Linked DNA regions of Homo sapiens. The protein of the gene in region 2 purifies or fractionates together with the protein of the main gene of each other region. This does not show direct contact. Each region holds a gene or a part of one and is shown on either strand. Other genes may lie near its edges. The genes, in order: UBR2, SOD2, FAHD2A and OAT.

Region 1 (7,461 bases), about 120 Mb from region 2:
ATACTGAATTATGGCCAAGAGCCGTGGCTCACACCTGTGATCCCAGCACTTTGGGAGGCCAATGAGGGCGGATGACTTGAGGTCAGGAGTTCCAGACCAGCTTGGCCAACATGGTGAAGCCCTGTCTCTACTGAAAAAAAAAAAACAAAAATTAGTTAATTAGTTGGGTGTGGTGGCAGGTGGCTGTAATCCCAGCTACTCAGGAGGCTGAGACAGAAGAATCACTTGAACCTGGGAAGTGGAGGTTGGAGTGAGCTGAGATCATGCCACCCCACTCCAGCCTGTATGACAGAATGAGACTCTCTATTTAAAAAAAAAAAAAAAAAAAGAAAGAAAAAAAATTGAGTGAAATTCCTTGGTGACAGAGTGAAACTTTGTCTCAAAAACAAACAAATAAACAAACAAAAACTCCTTTTCCCTAGCCTCCTGTACTTCTTTCTTGGATATAAAATCTTTGCTTATCTCCTCCAGTGTTTTTAATAACATTTGTAAAAGTTCTTTCCAACTTTCTGACTTGTGTCTGTTTCTTCCTTCGTCATTTTTGTTTTAGTCTCTCTTCCATAGGCTTTGCTCAAGTATCTGTACACAACCGCCTGTCTTCATATTTAAGAATGACTTACTAAAAATATGATTAGAAGTTTTATGCATGGGTGGGGTGAACTGACTATACCATTTTGTTGGGGTCTTATCCTCTACAGAATTTTTTTTTTTTTTTTGAGATGGAGTTTCACTCTTGTTACCCAGGCTGGAGTGTAGTGGCACAATCTCGGCTCACTGCAACCTCCACCTCCTGGATTCAAGCGACTCTCATGCTTCAATCTCCCGAGTAGCTGGGATTACAGGTGCCCACCACCATGCCCAGCTTTTTTTGTATTTTTAGTAGAGACAGGGTTTCATCATGTTGGCCAGGCTGGTCTTGAACTCTTGACCTCAGGTGATCCACCCGCCTCGGCCTCCCAAAGTGCTGGGATTACAGGCATGACCTCTACAGATTTTTTTGGTGGTGAGATAATCTACCCCTCTGGAGAAGACCCTCCCAAACTCTTGCCTGGGAGGTATAAGCCTGGCCACTAAGGTTCTCAGAGCCAAATGGGGAAATAAGCTAGGTTATCCCTGTTCACTATGTAGACTTTGATTCATCTCTCTTGAATGCAGTGCGGTATCCCTGTCCTCAGCTGTGTCTGGTGTCTCCCAGTCAAAAGGCCCTCAAGTGTAGTCACTCTAGAGGATAAAGCTCTAGTCTTCTTCCAGAGTAGGAAGTGAGATCTAACTTCTTGCTATACAGACTTTCAAACAATAAGCTTGCTTTTAGCATTGTCTTCACCCACTTTCAGAGTTACATGGTGCCTCAAATTTTTAAGTCTTTCAGGGTACTGCATATTAATTAGCTTGACTCAGTGTCTCTACTGCTAGCGGAGGTTTCAGCATTCTCTTAGTTACTTCTCAACCACTTGCTTTCCACCAAATTTTGGTGCTGTCATCCTCTCTTCTTTTCTTTTTTTCTCCCTTTACTGTCATGAGGTATTCAATCTGCCACATTTAACTGGAAGTTGGGGCTTAGCTCTTAATGCCCCCATGGGAACAGAAAACAAGACCCTGGGTCAAAGAAACATTGGAATTGCAACTGAGATCCTCTACATAAAGCCAGGGCTTTCAAAGGAATGTCGTATCAGTGAAAGGGTAGACTAGACAAAAAACCCACCAACTGGCATACAAAAATGACAAAGAAGCTCTTTACCTTGACTCTGAGTAGGAAAAAGAACTCTCCTTAAAAATTCATAGACAGGCCGGGCACTGTGGTTCACACCTGTAATCCCAGCACTTTGGGAGGCTGAGGTGGGTGGAACACCTGAGGTCAGGAGTTTGAGACCAGCCTGACCAACATGGTGAAACCCTGTCTCTACTAAAAATACAAAAATTAGTCAGGCATGATGGTACGTGCCTATAATCCCAGCTACTTAGAAGGTAACTATGCTCACCACTATACCACCAACGCATCTAATCCCAGCTACCTAGGAGGCTGAGGTAGGAGAATCGCTTGAATCCGGGAGGCAGAGGTTGCAGTGAGTCAAGATTGCACCATTGCACTCCAGCCTGGACAACAAAGTGAGACTCTGTCTCAAAAAAACAAAAATTATAGACAGAGAAATGGCACACAACTGAATTAATACTATTAGGGAATCTTCAAGCCTAGAAACTGACGTACAATTGGTCCTAGATACAGGATACTCCTAGAGTGCCTGGTCCTGAGTATACGATGTTTTCTAGGTTGTCTGGCCTTGCAGAAGCAAATGAAAAAGTATTTTGAAAGTATTAATACATGGAGAGTCCCACTGCTAATGCTACTAATGCTAAGTGAAGATGATCTCCAAATTCATAATTATGACACACAAGGGAAACAATTTTTTTTTGAGTCAGGCTCTCATTCTTTCACCCAGGTTAGAGTTCAGTGATACAGTCATAGCTCACTACAGGCTTGAACTCCTAGGCTCAAGTGATCTTTCCTGTCTCAGCCTCCCAAAGTAGCTAGGACTACAGACATGGGCCACCATGTTCGGCTAATTTTTAAATTTTTTTGTAGAGATGGGGTCTTGCTATGTTGCCCAGGCTGGTCTCAAACTCCTGGCCTCAAGTTATCCTCCAATCTTGGCCTCCCAAAGTTTTGGTATTACAGGTGTGAGCCACAATGCTCGGCCTGAAACAAATAATGTTAGGAAGCAAATAATGTTAAGAACAGAAATTGCCTTTACAGTCTATTAACGACTTAAATTCTATGTTAGGACAGCTCAAGAGATGTTGTTTTTGCTTCTAGGCTGGGACAATCCCAGTTTTCTTCCAAGTTGACTCTGTCCTGAGTGGATCAGTGTAAGGAAGTTGGGCAAAAAAAGAAAAATACATAGAAGAATATTTCAAGATATCTCATTATAAATATCTGTACAGATATGTGCATACTTTTTTCTGGACAGACTCATAAGACAGTGTCAAAAATGATTTTCTTTGGGGAGAGGGACTTGGGGTAAGAGGAATAGGAAGTTTTCAATTTTCCTTTTTTAAAACATTCCTTTCGAGTTTGAATTTCTGATGTTTTATATGTATATATATATATAACTTTTAAAAAGTGATAAGAAGGCTTACTTGTATTGTGAGGTTACAGGGATACAGGCAGTTTCTTATTTCCTTTTTTAAAAAACTGGTTAATATCATAGTATTGGTTTAAAAAAAATCCCAAAACAACATAAACATAAACATGTCCTAAACCTGGTCTGGCTCAGAACTTTTCCCCCCTATATGTAATTTACAACCTACTTCTGGGAATAAATTAACACACTTGACAAAAGGTATAAACAATTTTCTGACAAACTCTAGAGACTGAAGACTTCTAAGAAGCCCAGTCACCCAGCTGTCAGTCAAGAGTCTAATTACCTTTAACTAAACATAGTTTTCTTTGATAGCTAGTCTAACAATGTTTACCTATTTCTTTTTTTTTTTTTTCCTTCTTTTTTGATACAGGGTCTCAGCTGTGTCACGCAGGCTGGAGTGCAGTGGGCTGATCACAGCTCACGATGGCCTCAACTGCCTGGGCTCAAGCAATCCTCCTGCCTCAGCTTCCCGAGTAGCTGGGACTACAGGCGTGCCACCACACCTGGCTAATTTTTTGATTTTTATCAAGAGGGTCTCGCTATGTTGTCCAAACTGGTCTCAAACTCCTGGGCTCAAGTAGTCTGCCCCCCTCGGCCTCCCAAAGTGCTGGAATTACAGGCATGAGCCACCAAGCTTGGTCTGATTATCTGTAGAAATTAAATGTCTCTATCAAGAGGAAATCTTTTAATTGGCCTAATAGACTCTTTTTCCTTTGCAGCAAGATTTGTGATAAAGTTTATAAGTGGTCATCACTAAAGTTTTTGAAAAATTTTTTAAAACATGTTTTAAACCTTCAAAAAAGTGGGTAATGTTCACCTCCATTACTCGTATAAAAGATATGGGTTCGATGGATGACAGGACATAGAACCACAGGAATAGAATGTAATTCATTCATTCCTTTGACAAGTATTTGAGTGCCTACCCTATGCCAGACTGGCAAGTCCTTGAGGGTCTACCATGTGCCAGGCAGTGTTCTTGAAGCTGGGGATACAAAAATGAACAAACGAGATTCGGAGAATAAAACTACAGTTCCCACAGTATCTTTCTCTTTGGCTTTTTTCCAGGGGGCGCTGCTTTCCGCGACTGTCTTCCCATGATTCTCGTTGGGCAGAAAAGCCCCGCCCGCTTATCTGCCATTTAAGCCAGCGCCCCTTGAGAATGGACTACAACTCCCACAATGCATTCGAGGGGCACCGTGTTAGGGCGCCACCTTTTTCCCGGCTGTGCTGTACCTACAGCACCCAGAACTACAGTACCCAGAAAGCTCCGCTTCCCCTCCTGGGTGTTATTGCCCCTTTCCTGGTGCAGGACGCGGTAGTGGCCAGCGAGAGTGTCAGGCCTGGGGTTTTCTGTGTCCTTCCCTGGGTCAGGGACGAGCCAGTGACTTGACTCTTGGGCGCTAAGCTTGGGAGGGAGCGCAGGAGGCCGCTGTCCTTCCTTTCCGGTTCACGTCACCCTTCTCTCCCTCTGTTGCTCCACCTGCAGCCACTTGGACGGCTCCGGGACTGATTGCCTGGGGCAGGGGTGGCAGTCGAGGCCGCCGGGGCCGAGGTGAGGCTGCAGCTCTCCGGGCGGCGGTAGCGCTGGGGAGGAGGAGGAGAGAAGATGGCGTCGGAGCTAGAGCCAGAGGTGCAGGCCATCGACCGGAGCTTGCTGGAATGTTCGGCCGAGGAGATTGCGGGGGTGAGTGCCGGAACCCGGGCGGGTGCGTCTGCCCCTCGCAGGCCGCGCCTGTGGGGAGGAACCGACTCCTGGACGTCCTGGAGCAGCCCGACCCAGACTTGGGGAAACAGCTGTGCCGGCCCTCGCCTTGTGGGGTAATAGCCCGGGGAGGCCACCGATCCTGCCCCTCTCTTTCCATTTTCAACAGCTGCCAGAGCTGCGCTGTGCACTAACTACGTTTACTTTCCCTTTCTGCCCAGGAGAACCCACGGCTCTTCCATCATACCTCCTTTCCCCCAGCCTCCCATTAAGTCTCCCAACACATGGGCCTTTGCCCTTTATATCAGCTCTTGGAAGAGGAGAAGAGACGCTTCTTGTGTTTTTGGTATAATCGCCCTAGTTTATCTAGTTAATTGCTTTTCCTGAGACAAGCGAAGCCGTGTGCTCCTCCGACTAAACATGCCACCCTAACCGAGCCCCTCTTTTGTTTTTGGGACTGCCCCAGGCACCAAGAAGGCAAACGACACTACCCTTCGTTATCCGTTTCAGTGCTATCTTTTTTTTTTGCACCGGTTTGATTAGTTGACAACGTTGATGCATGTGTGGAAAGTTTACTGAGTATGAGAAAGTAGTCGTGGAGTCTGGGAAATTTTAAAAATATTTTTTCTAGGAGTTAGGGGTAATTGGATGGAGAACAAATGTTATATAACGTTGATAGAGCAGCTTTCAACAAATACTGTATAAGCTAAACGTGAGAACTGGTCACAGTGTAGTAGGAGCAGTTATATTCCAAACGTAAAACCGTTCAAACGCACTATTGCATTAAAACTGTAATATGAATATGCTAGTGTAAATAGCAGAGTTGTAGGAACACCCATTAGAAGAGATTGCCGAGAATGATTATGAATGGACCAAGACAGCTTGGGCCCCACCTCTAAGACCTCCAATTAAAAAGGCTGCTAGGAAGGGAGTGACCCGTGAATAAAAGTCAGCAATCTGAATGCTACGAACAAAATTTGGGATTGGGGGCACTGTGGAGCTGTTGGTCAGTGAGTAGTTATTTTGCGTGAATTGGTGAGGACATTAAGTCCGGGTAGAAAGAAATGTCAGGAGTAGAGGTGAAGACTTTAAAGAAATACGTTGTTAAATGCTGAATCTTTGCTTGTTTGGGTGTGTTTTGTTGTTGTTTGTTTTTGTTTTTGAGACGGAGTTTCGCTTTCGATGCCCAGGCTGGAGTGCAGTGGCGCGATCTCAGCTCACCGCAACCTCAGTCTCCCGGGTTCAAGCGATTCTGCTGCCTCAGCCCCTCGAGTAGCTGGGATTACAGGCATGCACCACCACGCCCGGCTAATTTTGTATTTTTAGTAGAGTTGGGGTTTCTCCATGTTGGTCAGGGTGGTCTCAAACTCCCGACCTCAGGTGATCCACCTGTTTGGGCCTCCCAAAGTGCTGGGATTACAGGCGTGAGCCACTGCGCCCTGCCTTGGTGTGTTTTTTTAAACCTACTTACTTGTTTAGCCTAGGTCTGTTTTCATTTACTTTCTACTTAATGTTGTACAACTCAAGGAATTTCTGCCTTTCGTTTATCGGAGATTTGAAAAAAGAAAATGAAAGTAGTGTTACAAGTAAACTGTTAAATAATAATGACAGCTGTTTGCTCTCCATGCCTCTTCTAATTGATATCTGTTGCTTACCTCAAAGTACTGTTTTGATTTTTTTTCTCTCACTGAATTTTGTGTCTTGGTCCAGTGATACAGGGTACAAATTCCGTTATCCCATTCTAAAAGTGCAAACTATCAAGTGATTAGAGGTTCTCCAATTTGTAGAGGCTCCTGAGGAAACTGGTTATAAAAGTAGTGCGGGAGGCCAGTGCTCCTAGTTCTTGTTCAGTGAAATTCTCAAGCAGATGCAGTAAGGAAAAATCAAGGAAAATGCAACAAAAAATTATTAATTTGGACTTCATTTGAGTTTGTGAAGATCATAATCTGAGCTACATTTTACCCTGTTTACTTTTTTTGTTTGTTTTTTTGAGACAGTCTTGCTCTGTCGCCAGGCTGGAGTGCAATGGCGCAATCTTGGCTTACTGCAACCTCCGCCTCCGGGGTTCAAGTGATTCTCCTGCCTCAGCCTCCCGAATTACAGCTGGGATTACAGGCGTACGCCACCACGCCTGACTAATTTTTGTATTTTTAGTAGACACAGGGTTTCACCACATTGGCCAGGATGGTCTCGAACTCCTGACCTCAGGTTATCCGTCCGCCTTGGCCTCCCAAAGTCCTGGGATTACAGGCGTGAGCCACCGCACACAGCCTACCCTGTTTACTTTTAAATGCCTTTCTGAACAATAAGTTTTTTTTTTTCTTTTTTTGGTAAGAGATGGGGTCTTGCACTGTTGCCCAGACTAGAGTATAGTGACATTATCATAGCTCACTGCAGCCTTGACCTCCTAGGCTCAAGAGATCCTCCTACCTCAAAAACCAATATTAAAATATAAAATTCCTTCAACTATATAACCTTAATCTTGCCTTACTTTGTGAGGACTTTACTGTCTGTATTAAGTTAAAACACCTAACATTTAAAACTGTTTTTTTCAGCTTAGGCTTCAGCTTTTTTATCACACATTTAAATTAATAAAGTTTTTTCTTAGGTTGAAAGCAC
Region 2 (7,020 bases):
TTCCATGTGCTGATGAAAAGAACGTGTGTTCTGCAGCTATTAGAGTGTTCTGCACCTATTAGAATGTTCTGTAAATGTCAGGTCCATTTGGTGTAAAGTGCAATTTAAATCCAATATTTATTGGTTTTATGTCTAGAAAATCTGTCCAATGCTGAGAGTAGAGTGAAGTCCTCAACTACTATTGTATTAGAGTCTATTTCTCCCTTTAAATCTAATAATATTTGCTTTATATCTGGGTCATCCAGTGTGGGGTACATATATATTTATAATGATAATATCCTCAGGCCTGGCACAGTGGCTCATGCCTATAATCCCAGCACCTTAGGAGGCCAAAGCAGGAGGACTGCTTTGAGACCCAGAGTTTGAGACTAGCCAGGCAACATAGCATAACCCCATCTCTACAAAAAAATTTTCTTAATAAAAAAATATGATTATATCTTGCATGAATTGATCCTTGTTTCATTACATAATGACTTTTCTTTTTACAGTTTTTGACTTAAAGTCTATTTTATCTCATGTAAGTATAGTTATTTCTGCTCTTTTTTGGCTTCCATTTGTATGCAATATCTTTCTCCATACCTTCACTTTTGGCCTGTCTTTACAGGTGAGGTTTCTTGTAGGCAGCATACAGTCGAGTCATGATGGTGGTTTTTAATCCATTCAGTCAATCTATATCTTTTAAGTGGGAGAATTTAATCCATTTACATTCAAAGTTATCATCAATAGAGGTGCAGACTTTTTAAACAAATCTCTTCCCAGGAGAATCACTTGTTTTTTGAGAGACAGGATCTCTTTCACCCAGACTGGAGTGCAGTGTAGACTCACACTGTAATCACAGCTCACTGTAGACTCCAACTCATGACCTCAAGGGATCCTCCCAACTCAGCCTCTCAAGTAGCTGGGACTATAGGGATGTGCCAGCATGCCCAGCTAAATTTTAACTTTCTGTAGAGATGGGGTCTTGCTTTGTTGCCCAGGCTGGTCTCAAACTCCTGGACTCAAGAGATCCTCCTGCGTTGGCCTCCCAAAGCACAGAGATTACAAGTATAGGCCACCACACTCAGCCTTGATAGGTGAAGACTTACTTGTGTCATTTTTTAAATTGTTTTCTGGTAAAAATGCTAACAGTAACTAGGAGCTAAAAGATTCATTTGTTTTTTTCCTCCAGGCATCCACTCTGAGCCCCAGTGAAGAATGGTGGCAGCTGTAAGCACTACCAGCAAGTATACCCTACTGGTTGGAGAACTTTGTTTAAAGGATATAAGTTGTGTGCCTTCTGTAAATGACGATTTAATAATATCAATATCCATTTATCCTCTATAATCATAGTCAATACACAGAGAAAACCAAAAAATGCCAGACTTGGGTTGGGTTCCAAGATGGCCGAATAGGAACAGCTCCAGTCTACAGCTCCCAGCGTGAGCGACGCAGAAGACAGGTGATTTCTGCACTTCCAACTGAGGTACCAGGTTCATCTCACTGGGGCTTGTTGGACAGTGGGTGTAGGACGGTGGGTGCAGCCCACTGAGCATGAGCTGAAGCAGGGCAAGGCATGGCCTCACCCGGGAAGGCAAGGGGTCAGGGAATTCCCTTTCCTAGCCAAGGGAAGCTGTGACAGACGGCACCTGGAAAATTGGGTCACTCCCACCCTAATACTGCGTTTTTCCAATGGTCTTAGCAAACGGCACACCAGGAGATTATATCCTGTGCCTAGCTCGGAGGGTCCCACGCCCATGGAGCCTTGCTCATTGCTAGCACAGCAGTCTGAGATCGAACTGCAAGGTGGCAGTGAGGCTAGGGGAGGGGAGCCCACCATTGCTGAGGCTTCAGTAGGTAAATAAAGCAGCCGGGAAGCTCGAACTAGGTGGAGCCCACTGCAGCTCAAGGAGGCCTGCCTGCCTGCCTCTGTAGACTCCACCTCTGGGGGCATGGCATAGCCGAACAAAAGGCAGCAGAAATCTCTGCAGACTTCAATGTCCCTGTCTGACAGCTTTGAAGAGACCAGTGGTTCTCCCAGCACAGAGTTTGAGATCTGAGAACGGAGAGACTGCCTCCTCAAGTGAGTCCCTGACCCCCGAGTAGCCTAACTGGGAGGCACCCCCAAGTAGGGGCAGACTGACACCCCACATGGCCGGGTACCCCTCTGAGATGAAGCTTCCAGAGGAATGATCAGGCAGCAACATTTGCTGTTCAGCAATATTCGCTGTTCTACAGCCTCCACTGTGATACCCAGGCAAACAGGGTCTGGCGTGGACGTCCAGCAAACTCCAACAGACCTGCAGCTGGCGGTCCTGACTGTTAGAAGGAAAACTAACAAACAGAAAGGACATCCACACCAAAACCCCATCTGCACATCACCATCACCAAAGACCAAAGGTAGATAAAACCACAAAGATGGGGAAAAAACAGAGCAGAAAAGCTGAAAATTCTAAAAATCAGAGCGCCTCTCCCCCTCCAAAGGAACATAGCTCCTTGCCAGCAACAGAACAAAGCTGGACGGAGAATGACTTTGACGAGTTGAGAGAAGAAGGCTTCAGATGATCAAACTTCTCCAAGCTAAAAGAGGAAGTTCGAACCCATCACAAAGAACCTAAAAACCTTGAAAAAAGATTAGACAAATGGCTAACTAGAATAACCAGCATAGAGAAGTCCTTAAATGACCTGATGGAGCTGAAAACCATGGCATGAGAACTACGTGACGAATGCACAAGCTTCAGTAGCCAATTCGATCAACTGGAAGAAAGGTTATCAGTGATTGAAGATCAGATGAATGAAATGAAGTGAGAAGAGAAGTTAAGAGAAAAAAGAGTAAAAAGAAACGAACAAAGCTTCCAAGAAATATGGGACTATGTGAAAAGACCAAATCTACGTCTGATTGGTGTACCTGAAAGTGACGGGGAGAATGGAACCAAGCTGGAAAACACTCTGCAGGATATTATCCAGGAGAACTTCCCCAATCTAGCAAGGGAGGACAACATTCAAATTCAGGAAATACAGAGAACGCCACAAAGATACTCCTCGAGAAGAGCAACTCCAAGACACATAATTGTCAGATTCACCAAAGTTGAAATGAAGGAAAAAATGTTAAGGGCAGCCAGAGAGAAAGGTCGGGTTACCCACAAAGGGAAGCCCATCAGACTAACAGCTGATCTCTCAGCAGAAACTCTACAAGCCAGAAGAGAGTGGGGGTCAATATTCAACGTTCTTGAAGAAAAGAATTTTCAACCCAGAATTTCATATCCAGCCAAACTAAGCTTCATAAGTGAAGGAGAAATAAAATCCTTTACAAACAAGCAAATGCTGAGAGATTTTGTCACCACCAGGCCTGCCTTACAAGAGCTCCTGAAGGAAGCACTAAACATGGAATGGAACAACCAGTATCAGCCACTGCAAAAACATGCCAAATTGTAAAGACCATTGAGGCTAGGAAGAAACTGCATCAACTAACGAGCAAAATAACCAGTGAACATCCTAGTGACAGGATCAAATTCACACATAACAATATTAACCTTAAATGTAAATGGGCTAAATGCTCCAATTAAAAGACACAGACTGGCACACTGGATAAAGAGTCAAGACCCATCAGGGTGCTGTATTCAGGAAACCCATCTCACGTACAGAGACACACACACATAGGCTCAAAATAAAAGGATGGAGGAAGATCTACCAAGCAAACGGAAAACAAAAAAAAAGGCCGGGGTTGCAATCCTAGTCTCTGATAAAACAGACTTTAAACCAACAAAGATCAAAAGAGACAAAGAAGGCCATTACATGATAGTAAAGGGATCAATTCAACAAGAAGAGCTAACTATCTTAAATATATATGCACCCAATACAGGAGCACCCAGATTCATAAACCAAGTCCTTAGAGACCTACAAAGAGATTTAGACTCCCACACAATAACAATGGGAGACTCTAACACCCCACTGTCAATATTAGACAGATCAACGAGACAGAAAGTTAACAAGGATATCCAGGAATTGAATTCAGCTCTGCACCAAGCAGACCTAATAGACATCTACAGAACTCTCCACCCCAAATCAACAGAATATACATTCTTCTCAGCACCACATCGCACCTATTCCAAAATTGACCACATAGTTGGAAGTAAAGCACTCCTCAGCAAATGTAAAAGAACAGAAATTATAACATACTGTCTCAGACCACAGTGCAATCAAACTAGAACTCAGGATTAAGAAACTCACTCAAAACCACTCAGCTACATGGAAACTGAACAACCTGCTCCTGAATGACTACTGGGTACATAACAAAATGAAGGCAGAAATAAAGATGTTCTTTGAAACCAACGAGAACAAAGACACAACATACCAGAATCTCTGGGACACATTTAAAGCAGTGTGTAGAGGGAAATTTACAGCACTAAGTGCCCACAAGAGAAAGCAGGAAAGATCTAAAATTGACACTCTAACATCACAATTAAAAATATTAGAGAAGCAAGAGCAAACACATTCAACAGCTAGCAGAAGACAAGAAATAACTAAGATCAGAGCAGAACTGAAGGAGACAGAGACACAAAAAAACCTTCAAAAAATGAATGAATCCAGGAGCTGGTTTTTTGAAAAGATAAACACAATTGATAGACCGCTAGCAAGACTAATAAACAAGAAAAGAGAGAAGAATCAAATAAATGCAATAAAAAATGATAAAGTGGATATCACCACCAATCCCACAGAAATACAGAGTACACAGAGAATACTATAAACACCTCTATGCAAATAAACTAGAAAATCTAGAAGAAATAGATAAATTCCTGGACACATACACCCTCTCAAAACTAAACCAGGAAGAAGTTTAATCCCTGAATAGACCAATAACAGGCTCTGAAATTGAGGCAATAATTAATAGCCTACCAACCAAAAAAAGTCCAGGACAAGATGGATTCACAGCCGAATTCTACCAGAGGTACAAGGAAGAGCTGGTACCATTCCTTCTGAAACTATTCCAATCAATAGAAAAAGAGGGAATCCTCCCTAACTCATTTTATGAAGCCAGCATCATCCTGATACCAAAGCCTGGCAGAGACATAACAAAAAAAGAGAACTTTAGACCAATATCCCTGATGAAAATCAATGCAAAAATCCTCAATAAAATACTGGCAAACTGAATCCAGCAGCATATCAAAAAGCTTATCCACCATGATCAAGTGGGCTTCATCCCTGGGATGCAAGGCTGGTTCAACATACACAAATCAATAAAAGTAATCCAGCATATAAACAGAACCAAAGACAAAAACCACATGATTATCTCAACAGATGCAGAAAAGGCCTTGGACAAAATTCAACAGCCCTTCATGCTAAAAACTCTCAATGAATTAGGTATTGATGGGACATATCTCAAAATAATAAGAGCTATCTATGACAAACCCACAGCCAATATCAGACTGAATGGGCAAAAACTGGAAGCATTCCCTTTGAAAACTGGCACAAGACAGGGATGCCCTCTCTCACCACTCCTATTCAACATAGTGTTGGAAGTTCTGGCCAGGGCCATCAGGCAGGAGAAAGAAATAAAGGGTATTCAATAAGGAAAAGAGGAAGTCAAATTGTCCCTGTTTGCAGATGACATGATTTTATATTTAGAAAACCCCATCATCTCAGCCCAAAATCTCCTTAATTTGATAAGCAACTTCAGCAAAATCTCAGGATACAAAATCAATGTGCAAAAATCACAAGCATTCTTATACACCAACAACAGACAAACAGAGAGCCAAATCATGAGTGAACTCCCATTCACAACTGCCTCAAAGAGAATAAAATACCTAGGAATCCAACTTACAAGGGATGTGAAGGACCTCTTCAAGGAGAACTACAAACCACTGCTCAAGGAAATAAAAGAGGACACAAACAAATGGAAGAACATTCCATGCTCATGGATAGGAAGAATCAATATCGTGAAAATGGCTATACTGCCCAAGGTAATTTATAGATTCAATGCCATCCCCATCAAGCTACCCATGACTTTCTTCATAGAATTGGAAAAAACTACTTTAAAGTTCATGTGGAACCAAAAAAGAGCCTGCACTGCCAAAACGATCCTAAGCCAAAAGAACAAAGCTGGAGGCATCACGCTACCTGATTTCAAACTATACTACAAGGCTGCAGTAACCAAAACAGCATGGTACTAGTACCAAAACAGAGATATAGACCAATGGAACAGAACAGAGCCCTCAGAAATAATACCACACATCTACAACTATCTGATCTTTGAGAAACCTGACAAAAACAAGAAATGGGGAAAGGATTCCCTATTTAATAAATGGTGCTGGGAAAACTGGCTAGCCACATGTAGAAAGCTGAAACTGGATCCCTTCCTTACACCTTATACAAAAATTAATTCAAGATGGATTAAAGACTTAAATGTTAGACCTAAAACCATAAAAACCCTAGAAGAAAACCTATGCAGTACCATTCAGGACACAGGCATGGGCAAGGACTTCATGTCTAAAACACCAAAAGCAATGGCAACAGAAGCCAAAATTGACAAATGGGATCTCATTAAACTCAAGAGCTTCTGCACAGCAAAAGAAACTACCATCAGAGTGAACAGGCAACCTACAAAATGGGAGAAAATTTTTGCAATCTACTCATCTGACAAAGGGCTAATATCCAGAATCTACAAGGAACTCAAACAAACTTACAAGAAAAAAACAAACCCCATCAAAAAGTAGGTGAAGGATATGAAGAGACACTTCTCAAAAGAAGACATCCATGCATCCAACAGACACATGAAAAAAATGCTCATCATCATGGGCCATCAGAGAAATGCAAATCAAAACCACAATGAGATACCATCTCACACCAGTTAGAATGTCAATCATTAAAAAGTCAGGAAACAACAGGTGCTGGAGAGGATGTGGAGAAATAGGAACACTTTTACACTGGTGGTGGGACTGTAAACTAGTTCAACCATTGTGGAAGACAGTGTGGCGATTCCTCAGGGATCTAGAACTAGAAATACCATTTGACCCAGCCATCCCATTACTGGGTATATACCCAAAG
Region 3 (8,016 bases), on a different chromosome or scaffold from region 2:
CTCCACCATTCCCTGTCTCCAGGCCCAAGTGAGGCCCCACCAGGTGGGGTGCCCGGAACTGCACTAGTCTCATGTCTCTGGAGGGTTGAAAGGGCCACTTCTGAGCCTGCAGCAGAACTGTGAGTAACCTTCTTCTACCAGACACCAGCATCAGAGCCTGCAGAGAAAAATGCAGGATCCAGGAGACAGAGGATCCCAGAGCCATCATCAGGTTCCCTGAAATTCCTAGGGCTATAGCCCGAGGCCCTTTGCCCCATCAACCGTTCCCTGCATACCACACGGGAAGTGGTCCAGGCTTGTATTTTACCTGCTATACTTCATAAGGTGAAACTTTTCTAGAGGAGCAACTACTACATGCTACGCAGTAAGTCCCAGGGATTCCAGCGTTCCTTCAACCAGTGCTTTCTGAAAGTTCCCACTGTGCTTGGCTCTGCTGTAGGTATTGGGGAAACAATGTAGGTGAAACTCAGCCCTGCCATTCTCCCTGCACAGGTCACAGATGTTAACAACTGACGTAAGATTCAGCTATCAGGACTAATGCTGTGAAGATGGTCAGGGGCTCTACCCTTCTCTAGTTTCTGGAGGAAGTGATGTGAGCTGAGCTGGGCTAAATGAGCAGGACCAGGAATTAGCTGGGTGGCAGCCCAGCATGGGCAAGTGACGCTGGTGAAACTGGCTTCACAGTGGCCATAAACAATTTTTTAAATGCTATTTTGGTCCTGTTAACCTCCTACTTAAAATGGTTTCCACTGCTCACATGATCAAGCTAGAACCTCTACCAGGCTGTCCCAGTCTTCTAGGAGCAGCGCCCCCACCTGCCTCTCCAGATAATAATTATTTCGTTTCTCCTGATAGAGAACAAGTTGCCTGAGGGAAGAGGCTGCAGACAAACAACAGGGTCTGGGCCTGACAGCCATCACTTGTCATCTCCCTGGGTCCAGGGCACATGTCTGTCTCTTTCACTGCCCAGCACTGTGCCTGGTGCACAGAAGGCTCTCAGTGACTTTCTGCTGAATGAACAAATAAGTGACAGAAGCAGGGGCTTGACATTTCACTACTTGGGAAAGCTTAGTGCTTGTTAACTTCAGGAGACATGGCTGTGCCTTCCCACAAGGGCCAGTTGTAGTGGCTCATGCGTGATATCCCTAACAATTTGGGAGGCCGAGGTGGGTGGATCACTTGAGGTCAGGAGTTCAAGACCAGCCTGGCCAACGTGGTGAAACCCCGTTTCCACTAAAAATACAAAAAACTCGCCGAGTGTGGTGGCAGCCACCTGTAATCCCAGCTACTAGGGAGGCTGAGACACGAGAATCGCTTGAACCCAGGGGAAGGAGGTTGCAGTGAGCTGAGATCGCGCCACTGCACTCCAGCCTGGGTGACAGACGAAGACTCCATCTCAATTAAAAAAAAAAAAATCCTCAGGGCTCAGATCCTGTTTTGAGTCCAAGGCTCCACTTAAAGACAAACACTATTCTCTTGTTTTGTTCTTAATCCACGTCTGGCCTCTATTCCTTACCACATGGTGCCTTCCCTGAATGGTTCCTTGCTCTTACAACAAAGGCGGTATTGTACAGCCTTCTATGCCCAAAAATGTGGAGGCAGCTGATCCCCAGACTCTTGGTCCTCACCTGGAGATTCAATCTGCCTTGTTCAGTTGAAGATTCATTAGACTTAGGTCACCACTGTTGTGGCCCACCAGTTTGACTAGAAAACCGAGGGCTTTGACTTCTCTGCCCTGCTGTCTTACACAAGCACCAACTGTGCCACTGTCAAAAGGCTGTTCGAGCCAATGTGCACACACTCAGACACTCCACATGCTAACATAACAGTAACTGCTGCCGCTGAATGCCAACTATTAAGTGCTCTACCTACAATGTCTGATTTAATTCTCGACAATTGTGGAAGGTAGGTACTGTTAGCCTCATTTTACAGATGAAACAATTAAGGCTTAAAGAGGTTAAGAGATTTGCCCAAGGTTACACAGTCCTAGAGCTAGGAGAGGAAGGAGCTGGGATGTGAATCCAAGTCCAGGTGACATGAAGTCCTTGGTTCAGAAGCTTGTAATGCAAGCAAAAAAATCCAGCTTCAGCCCCCATCCCCCTACCAAGGCCATTTTAACCCAGAATGTTGTGGTGAGAAGTGGGGACCTTCCATAGGAAATCCTCCAAAGTCTCTAAAGATTGTAGTGAGAAGTAGGGACCTCCCACAGGAGATCCTCCAGAGGCCGTAACTGCTAACAGACATGCGTGGGGAAACTACAGGCGCCCTCTGGCTGTTGCCTCAGGGACGAGGCTGGTTACCAGCTCTCCAAGAGAACCCCAGGCCCCACTGACTGTTCCCTTCCCACATGACACACACATGCAGGTTCATTCCAACCTTACAGCAATCTCCTCAGGTAGAGCGCCCTCACTTTAAAGAAGAGGACACTGAGACTCAAAGGGATGATGTCAGGTGCCCAAGGTACTAGTCAGAAAGTGGCCCTGGGGCTTCTGCAACAACCACTATATCACACAGCCCGAGCTCAATCCAACTCTGCAAGAGTCCATAAGCAAAGGGGCGGCGACATGAGGTGGAAACAGTAGCCTCCATCAAACAAAGCCTGAGACATGGGTGTGCACGTCGGATTCCATCCCACCGTCCACTCGCCTGGAACCCGTGCCGGTCCCCCAGTTTCCCCATATGCCCAGCTCCAGCCCCGACAGTTAGTGAGTGCTCACACAGGTCCGCCCCGTCTGTGTGGTCAGAAGCGGCTGGGGATCCGGTACTAGTTCTGCGCTCCGCGGGAGACCGGCGCCACGGACACCCTTCTGGCCTAGACCCAGCCAGGCTCGTCCTACCTGGCCGCGGCGGCCGATCTTCCTGCGCTGTAGGGTTAGAGCTCGCGGGGCCGAAGGTCAAGGGCGGCGGGCGCCTGAGCACTGCCACCAGTGACCGCAGCCAGCCGGGGAAATGCAGCAGCTGCTAACCCAGGGCCACTCGGCCGGATCACCCGAGAGAAAAGCGGGCGCGATCCTGTGACGTCACAGGCAATGGCCACTAGCAGGGCGCCAATCCCGGAGGGGCGGGCCCATCGTGGGGCGGGCGGCTCCGGCGGGTCTTCAGGCTACGGGTTCAGCCAGGCGCCAGCCGCGTTCTCTGGAGACGCTCTCTCTCGGAGGGACCCTGCACTTGCCTGAACTCGAGAGTGGGCGCTGCCCGAAGGTTTGTCCCTGGGCGCTTCGCTGGCCTCATCCGGTCTCGGCCTTGTTCTGGGCCTGGCGCCTTTCCCATTGTTGGGGAAAGTGGTCTAGGAGACCAAGGCAGCGTGCTGGGTGGCAGAGAATGATTTGTGGCTTCTGATTCTGACATATGTCGTTGAGGAGGGGAGGGATGACTGCCCCCGTTTTACTTATGGAGAACCTGGGGCCAGAGCTGTTTTCCCAGGGTGACACAGGCGGTGAGTAGTGGAGCTGGCATTCCTGACCCCAAAGCGCAGCGTTTCCCAGCCACTCTCCGCAGCCAGGCCTTCACCTGCACTGCTGGGCGCAGGTGGGGAAGTGGGGAAACGGGACTCCATCCCCTGCAGAGGGCAGGCGTGTAGGGAGTGGCAGCTGAACTCCACAGACAGCTACTGCTCAGCTCTTCAGCTGCCGACTTTGAACAGTGTGAGGGGCTCTGTACAAGTGGCCCCCACATTACTCAAGGACCAGATCATCAAGAGCTTTACTTGTCCCACGAAGGAGTCTGGACCTTGTTTACGTGCACAGGAGACCGCTGGAAGGTTCTCAGTGGCGTGCCATGTCCCGACTTCTATTTGAGAAGTTTTTCTCTGGCCACCCGTCTGAGGAAAGGTGTCTGGGTGGGTGGTGCGGTTGAGAACAATGGTGGTGCGGTGCGTGGTGGAGAAGGTGAGTGTCCAGAGATGTTCAGGAGGAAGAACTGACAGCTCTGAATGACAGGAGGTGGAAGTGAGAAGGAAGGAGGTACAAGGCCAACTCCTGGGTCTCTAGCTCGGTAGGTGCAGGGCCGTTCATGGAGACAGGGCTCCTGGAGGAGCAGCGGGTCTGGGGAGAGGATGGTGAGCTCCGATTTGCATGGGACATCCAAAGGGCATTGAACGGTGGGCAGTTGGAGACATGGGTCTGGAGCTTGGGACTTCAGCCTAGCTTGCAGAAGGTCACCACAGATATTGAAATGGAACCTATGGGGGTGGCTGTGATCAGGGGGATTCGCTGAGGAGAACCTGGCACAAGGGTTTCACTAAGCCATAGCTCCCAAAGACTTTCTGAAAAGCTAAGTTACAGCCTGGAAGAAAATATCTGTAAAGGCTATATTTGATAAAAAGACTTGTATCCAGAATATAGAAAGAATGCTTAAAAGTCAGTAGATAAAATCAAACAATTCAATTTTTTAGATGGACAAAATATTTGAACTGACATTTCATCAAATAAGATATACAGACAGAAAATTGGGACATGAAGGCTGGGCGCAGTGGCTCACGCCTGCAATCCCAGCATTTTGGGAGGCCGAGGCAGGCGGATCACAAGGTCAGGAGATCGAGACCATCCTGGCTAACACAGTTAAACCCCATCTCTACTAAAAATACAAAAAATTAGCCGAGCGTGGTGGTGGGCGCCTGTAGTCCTAGCTACTGGGGAGGCTGAGGCAGAAGAGTGGCGGGAACCCGGGAGGTGGAGCTTGCAGTGAGCCGAGATCGTGCCACTGCACTCCAGCCTGGGCGACAAAGCAAGACTCTGTCTCAAAAAAAAAAAGAAAGAAAAAATTAGGACATGAAAAGATGCTCAACATCATTAATCATTAAGGATATGCAAATTGCAAGCGCAATGTGACACCATCTCACACCTACTAGAATGGACAAAGAAGACTGATTATACCAAGTACTGGCAAGAATGTGGAGGACCTGGGATTCTTGTACACTGCTGATGGGATTATAAAATAGTACCACCACGATCGAAAACCATTTGTCAGTGTATGAAGAGAATTAAACATACACCTACCATATGATGTAGCCATTTCAATCCTGACTATTGACAGTATTGAATTTTACCTTAGCCCTTTGCTTCTAGAAATAGTGAAGGTTAAGGAATCCCACCACTCTTTTGTTCCAGAAAACCCCCTACTGGAAAGAACCAGTGACTTTCTATATAACCTGGATAAGACTCCCAGATGCTCCCTTGTTTATCTGTGACCAGGCCAGACACAGACCCTCTAAATTCCCATTCTTGGCCTCATAAATGATTAGCTGGGCTGCTTGTCCCACAGATCAATAAGAACAAAAGCCTGTAACCAAACCTTGGTTCAGATTCTCTCCTTTTCCAAGCCCTTGAGCTTTGGCCCACCCACAGCTTGTGCCAACCCGCAGCCCTCCTGAGGTTCCCTCCTGAGAACAGGCTGTCCGCAGGGTAAGACCTCCTCGATCGTGACACTCTTGCTCAGCCCACTTTCCCATAACAGTTCTTTCTAGCCACGTTTACGCCTCCCTATACAAGATCAGCCCTTTGCCTAACCTCTGAGACACTTGCAGATCATATGGGAAGCCTGCGAGTGGCCGCACTGCAACGTTTCCCTATTGCAATGGTCACCCCCACAACAATCCTTTGGAATAAATTCGCTCCTTATATAATCCAGATTTGTTTTTTTGTTTTATAGTAATTACCTGAGAAATTTAAAAAAAATGCTTATGCAATGGCTTATACAGAAATGTTCACAGCAGCCTTTTTACAAAATCCCCAAACTGGAAACAACTCAATTTTTCATTAACAGGTGAATGTGTAAACACTCTGTTATAGCCACACTAGGGAATACTACCCAGCAATGAAAAGGGACAAATTGTTGATGCAACATGGATATATATCAAGATAATTATTCAGAGTGAAAAAGAGATTAAAAATGAGTACATATGGAATTATTTCATTTGTATAGAGTATCCTTGGGGGGTACTTTCCAAGACCCCTAGAGGACGCCTGAAACTGCAGATAGTACCAAACCCTACATCTGCTACGTCTTTTCCTATATATACATGCCAGTGATCAAATTTAATCCAGATGAAGTTAACCTGGTGCTACACGGTTGCTGTTCAATCAGAATATGTTTCTGTTCACGTCTTCCACCCACAAATCTAATGCCTTTTCCATCCTAACTAAGTGCTTCTCACACACTGTAGCCATAACTTTTGCAGTTTGAGGTGCGACAGCAAAACTGGCACAAATTTCTTTTTCCTTCTTCACAATTTCATGGATAGAAGATTCGTTCTTTCTGTAGCTCTTAGCAACCTCATTATGTGATTTTTGTTTTATTTCCTTAAGTCAGGAGCGTTCCCATAAAGGAAGGCTTCTCTTTGGCATATCGGAAATGCCGACACCACTCCCCTTTTGCTCTGGGGCCATTATGAAGTCAGATGATGGTGCCTTGCACAGAAGCACTGCGGTACCACGACAGTGGATCTAATCACGGAGCCAGCTCATTGGTGACTAAGGGGCAAGGAGGGCAGACGTCATGGAAAAGCTGAACAGAGGAATGATTCTTGTCCCAGGTAGGATGGAGCAGGACAGTGCAGGATTTCATCACAGTACACAGAGCAGCACACAATTTAAAACTTATGAATTGCTTATTGCTGCAATTTTCCAGTTAATATTTTTGGGCCATGGATGACCTTGAGTAACTGAAATTTCAGAAAGCAAAACCATGGATAAGAAGGGACTACAGGCCAGGCGTGGTGGCTCACACCTGAATTCCCAGCACTTTGGGAGGCCAAGGCGGGTGGATCACGAGGTCAAGAGATCGAGACCATCCTGGCTAACACGGTGAAACCCTGTCTCTACTAAATATACAAAAAGTTAGCCAAGCGTGGTGGCGGGCACCTGTGGTCCCCGCTACTTGGGAGGCTGAGGCAGGAGAATGGCGTGAACCCAGGAGGTGGAGCTTGCAGTGAGCCGAGATTGCGCCACTGCACTCCACCCTGGGCAACAGAGCGAGACTCCATCTCAAAAAAAAAAAAAAAAAAAAGAAGGGGCTACAGTACACTAGAAATGCAAATGAATGTGTAGTGACAGGAAACAGGCCAGTGGTTGTTTGGGTGTAGACACCTCCTTGGAGAAACTGCTTGTACCTAGGACAAGAGATGGTGGAGAGCTGGACAAATCCAGGGTTGTAAAACAGAGATCATAAGACTGATGGAATGGAGTCTTTGTGGCTTATAAATTATGAAATTATAAATAAGACTAAGGCCATGCCAGGCAAAAGTCACATACCCCTACACTAAAATAATAAATGTTCTAACTTACCAATTGTCAGATGCTAACTGATGCCCCCAGACTCCAGACTCCATTCCACAAAGCATAACTACAGGTTTGATTGAACAAGAGACTGACTTCAGTAATTTTCTCCTGATAAGACACCACTGACCATGGGCTGGTTCTGGCCAGTTTATAGAGGCTGCGCACTGAGTACCTTTGTGTTCTTTTTTTTTTAAGGCAGACCTGGCTCTGTTGCCCAGGCTGGAGTACAGTGGCATGATGCTGACTCACTGCAACCTCTGCCTCCTGGGCTCAAGCCATCCTCCCACCTTGGCCTCCCAAGTAGCTGGGACCACAGGCACACACCACTGCACCTGGCTAATGTTCTTCTACCTTTTGACCTATAGAGCCTAATTTTAGGCATTTAATGTTATGTTTCCACCCCAAAGTGAACATGGGTTGTATGCAACACACAGGATTATTCAGTTGCATGTGTTAGGATCCCCTCATAAATATTCATAAGGGTCTCATAACTTACTGAATATGTATGTATAGTTCCTGTCTTTGGGCATACACCTCAGCCTCTCCGCTTTTTCCTCTGAAGTGCCTGCTTTTGGTTTCTGCTAAAGGCCACGTTTCCCCACCTGTGGGATGTCCATCCTGCAGGTGGCAACCCTTTCTAAGAGATAAAGCTCTCCTGGCTAAATTTCTACATTTTGTGACTTTTTCCATTGACAATGTGGCTGAATAATCAAAGGGGAAATAAAAGCTTTTGAACCCT
Region 4 (7,214 bases), on a different chromosome or scaffold from region 2:
TGCCATGATTTATTTTTAAAACTGTTTAAAAAGACACACACACACCATTTTTCAGTTGATAAAAAATTAGAAAACACAGACAAGAAAATTACCAGCAATTTTACACTTGCATGATAACCATTAACATTTGGTTATTTTTTCTATGCATAATTAGCATCCATATTAGCTTTTTTTCACCCTCCCCTATAGAATTTACTATTTAAGTCCCTCCTAGAGACTCCCAGGGACTGTGCAGACTTGTAACGGGTCCTAACACTGCAGGCCACTTGTTTTTATGCCTATAAGTCTATACTCTAAGCTCCTTTAAAAAACAGTAAAATTCACTTTGCATTCCTAGAACCTAGCCCAGGTTGGGCATCCTGTGGGCCTTTATCAGATAAAGAGGTCAGTCTTACTTAGGACTCCTGAGGGAGTCAAGGTAGCAAGTGATCAAGACCATGGGATCACCTATCCCTGACCAGGTTGAGTCTAACTCTAAGAGGGGGTGTTCACTCTCTGACCTCATCTAGAATAACTCATCTCTTCATCAAGAGTTTACTTCATTAGATCTAATGGCCTTCAAAGGTCAAAATAATGTGTTCCAGGCAGCTATCATGCATCTACCTGACGCCCATACTCAGGTCCTGGAAATGAGAACAAATTGCTCTTGGCAAGCTAGAATTCTAACACTGAAGGTTTTATCCACGTAATTAACAGGGTCCTTCAGGCTACCATTACTCCCTCCATCTAGCCCATCCATCTACATTAGAACATACCTACAGTAGAATTTCCACAAAAGGCTGCATTTTGAAGTTAATTTAGCCTATACTCTTAAAAACTATTTTCTTACTCTAAAAGAATAGTCGGCGTAAAGTTGTCCAAAAGCCACTTAAAATATTCAACTTGAGGAGTAAATTTGTTCTTGCTATTTTGACAAATATTTACTTTTCCTGAGGTAACCATTCACAAATACAGGCCTTTAAAAAAAAAAAAAAAAAAAAGTTCTACCAACAGAAGTCTCTTTGACGTAATCAGTATTCTGGCTAAAATTCAAGCCAAGTGCATCATTGGCAAACAACTAGTTTTACTACTGAGAAAGGACCGGGGTCAACTACAGCACATCCTCCACACACATCCAAATTCGTGCATTCATCACTATTTGTAAATGTTTGAGATTTGAAAGGTCCTCAAGAACTCACTAAAGGGCATAAAATATGCACACAAATAACTGTAATAAAGGCACGCTATGGGGATAATACATATTAAGACAGCTGCTTTGAGGGAAAAATGTCTTTTAAAAATGTTTACTATTTAAAGTTATACTGGATTTTTCTTTGGGGGGGGGATGCAAAACTAATCTTAAACACCATGAAAAACTGTAAACCCAAAACTATAAGCTTTTTTTTTTTTTTTTTTTTTTTTCGAGACGGAGTCTGTCGCCCAGGCTGGAGTGCAGTGGCACGATCTCAACTCACTGCAAGCTCTGCCTCCCGGGTTCAAGCAATTCTCCTGCCTCAGCCTCCCGAGTAGCTGGGATTACAGGCGCGCACCACGATGTCTGGCTAATTTTTGTATTTTTAGTAGAGAAAGGGTTTCACCATGTTGGCCAGGCTAGTCTCAAACTCCTGGCCTCAGGTGATCCGCCTGCCTGGGCCTCCCATAATACTGGGATTACACAGGTGTGAGCCACCGTGCCGGGCTAAAAATAAGCTTTTTAATTTAACGCTCGTTTTTATGAAAAGATTCATCTAAAGACAGAACCAGGATATTCTAATGAAAGGAGTCTATTGTTATTTCACATGGCTAAGAGCGATTGATTACAATCTAAAGAACAGTTCCGGGGTTAACTGAAAGAACTAGCTTATCCACAGAAACCCTTTCAATCCCAGAAGGAGAAATTTAGAATTTGGAAACTGAACATTAGTCATTTCTTAAGGTAAAGCCACTTCATTCCAAAGTCACTGTCTGTTCGCCCTTAATTTATCACCGTAATTTATCTAAGAGGTAAAACTGAACACCGAAAAGGTAAGATGTAGAGTGACAAAAGGAGACGGTGGGTCACAGGGCGAGTGCCCAGGTGACTTCGGGCCTCAGTCCTCTCGCCAGCAAAGGGCGGACAATGACCCCTCCCGTCCCGCCCGGGAAGGCGATCGAGGAAACGCACTGGCCAGGCCCATTTACTGATGCTCAGCAGGGTTTGCAAAAAGCCCCCAACGGGAGGTTTTCATGCTGAAAGTCCTGTTGCCCCCCCATCCCCCACCATCTAATTAACCTGCACGTTACTGTAAGGAAGGTTCTGCTTCCGTAATTTTCTTTATTTCGACAGAGGCTGGAGAAAAAAAATCATAGGCTGGAAGAGGGGAGCGATGGGCAGGCCGATCTGCAGGGCGCAGGAGCAGGCCGGGAGGACCCAGCCCTCCAAGGCTGCATCAGCGCCCCCGCCGCGTGACCAGGGCCACCGGTTTACTGCACAGCTCCCCCGTCCCCAGAACGCAGCCTCCCCGCCAACCCCAGGAACCAAGGGTGCCCAAAGGCCTCCTACCCGGAACCCCGGGGCGCCTCGGGGTCTCTGGGCCGGGTGGGCCGAGTCCTGGCCTCCACAGGCCGCGAGCGCAGGGGGCGGCGGCTCCGCCCGGTCTGGCAGGCGGGGCTGCCACATCCTCAGCCTCTCCCTGCCGCCCGCCCGTCGGCCGCTCTGGGCTGGAACCAGGACTCCGGCCTGCAAGCCGTGGGTCGCCACGCCCCTGCCCCCTGAAGCTGCGCGCCGGCCGGAGACTCCAGGGCGCCCGGGTCCGAGCCGCCCGCAGAGTAAACGGGCCGCTGAAGCGGGGCTCGTTCCCCGGCCGAGGCCCAGCGCGCCCCCTCAGCCAGCATCCCCCGAACCCGGGCCGCGGCCACCCCGCGCCCGCCCGCCTCCCCCGCCGCTGTCAGGGAACCCCGGCCAGGGCCCGAACCAGAGCCCCAGGACAGCGGCGCCCAGACGGTACCTGACAGCGCCTGAGGACAACCGGGTACACGCGGCGTCTATGAAGCGCAACAGTGACGCCGGAGAGTCACTGCAACTTAAAGGCTGATTCTGCCCCGCCCCCAAGACACCCTCGCCGCTCATTGGCTGGGGCGGAGGGCAGGATACCAATCGCGTGGGTCCCGTCCTCCGCCCCGCCCTCCGGCCGCGCATCAAGGATCTTTGCTCCTCCCGCGGATTCGATCCGCGCTCGCGCCTCCTGAGCCCGCCGGCCTGTACCTGAGCTCAGGCCCCTCGGTCGCCTCCTCTGGCGGGACGAGAAGAGTCCTTGTCCGCCCTTGCTGACGAGAAGACTGAGGCCCGAAAAGGAAAAGTCTGTTGGGCCCCCCACTGCGCGGGCCGGGTGTGGCTGGAGGCCGAGAGACGTGAGGCTGGACCGCCCGCCCTGTGCTCCTGGAGGGAGGGACCAGCCCCAGCTCTGCCCCAGCCACAGCTGCGGGAGCCCCATGCCCTTGAACCCTGATGCGCCGCGCGGCTTAGTTGTGCCTCTGAATCCACCTCCAAAAGTCGTCGCTGCCTATGGAAAACACACTGCCCACCTGTTCGCAGCTGCTGTCAGATAATTGAGTGGCAGCAACCCACTCACAGTACAGATTTGCCTGTGGTGCCCTCCACAGCCGGTTATTAAATTCAGAACACAAAATAGATATTCCGGGACAACCTCATGTTAGAATCGGAAGGGACTTGGACTTCACTTAGCCCACAACAAGATGTTAAATATTGGAAAACAGAGACCCAGAGAAGGAAAGCGACTTACCCAGTCATCCAACAGTAGGGGCAGTCTGGTCCTGTGTGCCCCTCGCCACCCCTCTCAGAGGGCAGGCGCTGGCAGCTGCCGGCACCACACTCCATTAGACCACAATGACCAGTCGGGGGCCCAGCTGGAAACAGAGGGCACACTCCAATGTGAACATTTCCTAAAACGTGGTGGTGGGGGCCCGTGGTTCATGCCTGTAATCCCAGCACTTTGGCAGACCGAGGCAGGAGGATTGCTTGATCCCAGGAGTTCCAGACCAGCCTGGGCGACACAGTGAGACCCCGTCTCCACAAAAAAAAATAAAAATTAATCTGGTGTGGTGGCACACCTATGTTCCCAGCTACTCCAAAGGCTGAGGTGGGAGGATCACTTGAGCCCAGGAGGTTGAGGCTGCAGTGACCTATGACTGCACCACTGCACTCCAGCCTGGGCAACAAAGCAAGACCATCTATCTTAATCAACCAATCAATCAATCAATGTAGGCAAGTAAACCACAAGGGATGGAGAAATAACCTGGGTCTCATGCACCAGCGAGGGCCATTATCCATCCTAGGCCCAACGGCCTCCAAGTGGGGTTTCCAGAATTCCAGAACCCAAAGAGAGGAGTGTGGGAAAGGCTATCTGGTCACCAAAGTCATCAGCAACTGCATGGGAAGGAGCTGGACAATGAGCATCTCCTGTCAGGCTTCCACATGGGCTGAAGCCATTAGGAGGCCAGAGGCCAGGGGAGCCCTTTAAGACAGCTCAGCCTCCTGGGACAAACAGCAGGGTGGAAAAGGGTGGAGACGGGGTAGGGGAGCAATTGGAAGACATCCAACATACATAACTGGCTAAGATAAGTCTTAGCTAAGCAGAAAGTAAAGTCCATGCTAAATGGTAGGGATAAGAAAGTGATATGGGTGCAGAGCTGTGAACAGCAGAGCCAGTATCTGCAGATGTGCAGAGCAAGACACCAAAAGGGATTCAGTCCCCCTGGGCTCCATCTGCCCTATACCAAGGTCACTCTCTCAGACTGTTGTGGCCATGGGCTCTCCAGAACTCACTGAGAGCAGAACATTGCCTTTTATTTCTTTCATGTTCCTCCACAGCACCCAATACAATGTGATTAACTTCCTGGAAGTTAGGTTATTCTGCCCAAGGGGTCAGAAAGGAATGGTTTCTCCATGGTCCTGCTCTATAAACCTGGGCAGGTATGTGGGGCCATGCCCAGCTCTTGGAACTCTTATAGAGCCCAAGACTCCCGAGTTATGCCTTGTCAAGGAGGAGCAGGTGAGTTCAGGAGAGGCACATGACACCCAGGATCCAGGGGTAACATAAAGTATGTTACAATGTCTTTGGGCTCACAGATAAGGTGCTCTTTAAGGAGTTTCATATGCAAGAAGTTGCTGGAAATGTCTGGGTTTTATCTCTTTCCTCTTATCAGAAAAATGCAATAGGTCCAGAAAGCATGATAACATTTTATGGTCTCTGTACTAGAGTTGTTTTTCAGCATAATGTGGCCTTGACAGAGAGACCTGAACTTGAAAGCTGCTTCTTTTCAACCAAGAAACAGAGCTGCTTTATTTGTATGTATTTTATTTGTTCAATCTAGAAACATAAAGGTAAAGTGCACATTACAAAGATTTTTGAGTCTCTAAAAACTATTAATAATTCAAGTAATTAACTATATGGGGACCATAAAACCTGAGGATATAAAGAGTGGCCCTCAGGCCAGGCACAGTGGCGCATGCCTGTAATCCCAGCTACTTCGGAGGCTGAGGCAGGATAATCGCCTGAACCCGGGAGGAGGAGGTTGTGGTGAGCCAAGATTGTGCCATTGCACTCCAGCCTGGGCAACAAGAGCAAAACTCCATGGCCCTCATAACAGACATCCAAGACCTAAATTCATTTCATCAGTTCATTCGACAAATGTCCTTTGAGTGCCTCAGGTGCCTGACCTTGCGAGGGGTTTCACATCATCAGGCAACACCATGTGAGTCCTTTTTGTTTGTTTGTTTGTTTGTTTGTTTGTTTTTTGAGACAGAGTCTCGCTCTGGCGCCAAGGCTGGAGTGCAGTGGCATGGTCATGGCTCACTGCAACCTCTACCTCCTGGATCCACCCATCTCAGCCTCCTGAGTAACTGGGACTTCAAGCGCATGCCACTACGCCCAGCTAATTTTTATATCTTTTTGGTAAAGATGGAGTTTCACCATGTTGTCCAGGCTGGTCTTGAACTCCTGGACTCAAGCAATCTGCCCACCTCTGCCTCTCAAAGTGCTGGGATTACAGGCATGAGCCACCATGCCCGACCCATATGAGTCTCTTCAGTAAGGAGGGAGAAGTTCCAGAAATGCTCCTTTAACAGATGTGAACAAAAATCTTGCGACATTGGTCATCTAAAAAAGCTGCAACTGTATTTTAAAAAAGGAAAGAATCATTGATTTTCTTATACAGACAACTCTCTAGTATTTAGTGGCCAGAAAAACAACGGGTGGGCTATGCAGATCTCTTGCTTTGCGTTGCTTCCTTTATTGTCCCACTCGTCCTGACTTCTTATTAGTATAGTCTGCATATACCTGGGCTTCAAATGATTAAAAAGGAAAATCCAAGCTGACAGCCAAGGAGGAAAACTGATAACGACACAGAGAAAATAAGTGTTTGGTGATTTTTAACCTGCAGGAGAAATTTTGTTTCCCAGATTACATTCACCCTAAAAAGATGTCTTCGCAGCAGAAGTCTGGGCAACATGTGTAACGCATCCTTCCTGCTCCCAGTGCACCAAGTCAGGACAGGTATTTAGGTCTGGTGGAGAGCAAACCTCCTTTAAGTCCAGAAAGGCAGGGATCTGGAAGGAGCAAGTTAAGCAAGGCATCGAGGACAGTGGGAGAGTGATCGATGGTAAACGTTCTGAACTGGGAATGATAGACAGAGACTCAGAAATGTTGCCGTTCGTCTATGGGTCCTCATATGAGGCTGTGCCTGACGGGAGTATTAATTTTTCTCTCCCGGAGCCAAGCTCCACCTACGAACTCAGGCTGCAACCCCTTCCCGTCCCCCAGGTGAGACCCTCCCTGACGACTGAGACTGAAGGGGCCTCGTCCTCTTCCTGAGCACTTCCTGTCCACGTCAGGCTGGCCTGCAGTCTTTTTTCTTTTTTTAATTTAAAAATACACATAGAGACAGGGTCTCGACATCTCGCTCAGGCTGGTCTCAAACTCCTGGGCTCAAGCAATCCTCCGGCCTCGGCCCCCCAAAGTGCTAGAATTACAGGTGTGAGCCACCATGCCTGGCCTGCGGTCGTTTTTTAACCTACAATATCTCTCTGGCTCTCTAGCTCTATCAATTTGAGAAAAGAAAACTCACTCATCTGGGCGCAGTGGCTCACACCTATAATCCCAATACTTTGGGAGGCCGAGGTGGGAGGATTACCTGAGGTCGGGAGTTTGAGACCAGACTGACCAACATGGGGAAAC

Evidence for each region.
Region 1: the proteins of SOD2 (region 2) and UBR2 purify together in Homo sapiens (affinity purification with mass spectrometry; 3 studies listed by BioGRID and IntAct, with this or other methods). This does not show direct contact.
Region 3: the proteins of SOD2 (region 2) and FAHD2A fractionate together in Homo sapiens (co-fractionation; 2 studies listed by BioGRID). This does not show direct contact.
Region 4: the proteins of SOD2 (region 2) and OAT fractionate together in Homo sapiens (co-fractionation; 2 studies listed by BioGRID). This does not show direct contact.

What each region holds. Positions count from the first base shown.
Region 1 is NC_000006.12:42,559,574-42,567,034, forward strand, and holds the start of UBR2 (E3 ubiquitin-protein ligase UBR2), read left to right. Parts: upstream 1-4,455; 5' UTR 4,456-4,746; coding exon 4,747-4,824; coding exon of another isoform or gene 4,825-4,958; intron 4,959-7,461. UniProt on the Homo sapiens protein: E3 ubiquitin-protein ligase which is a component of the N-end rule pathway.
Region 2 is NC_000006.12:159,669,241-159,676,260, forward strand, and holds part of SOD2 (superoxide dismutase [Mn], mitochondrial isoform A precursor), read right to left. Parts: 3' UTR 1-7,020. UniProt on the Homo sapiens protein: Destroys superoxide anion radicals which are normally produced within the cells and which are toxic to biological systems.
Region 3 is NC_000002.12:95,397,694-95,405,709, reverse strand, and holds the start of FAHD2A (oxaloacetate tautomerase FAHD2A, mitochondrial), read right to left. Parts: upstream 3,003-8,016; 5' UTR 2,838-3,002; exon of another isoform or gene 2,718-2,837; intron 2,711-2,717; exon of another isoform or gene 308-2,710; intron 158-307; 5' UTR 152-157; coding exon 1-151. UniProt on the Homo sapiens protein: Tautomerase that converts enol-oxaloacetate, a strong inhibitor of succinate dehydrogenase, to the physiological keto form of oxaloacetate. It is thereby required to maximize aerobic respiration efficiency by preventing succinate dehydrogenase inhibition.
Region 4 is NC_000010.11:124,415,907-124,423,120, forward strand, and holds the start of OAT (ornithine aminotransferase, mitochondrial isoform 1 precursor), read right to left. Parts: upstream 3,018-7,214; 5' UTR 2,967-3,017; intron 1-2,966. UniProt on the Homo sapiens protein: Catalyzes the reversible interconversion of L-ornithine and 2-oxoglutarate to L-glutamate semialdehyde and L-glutamate.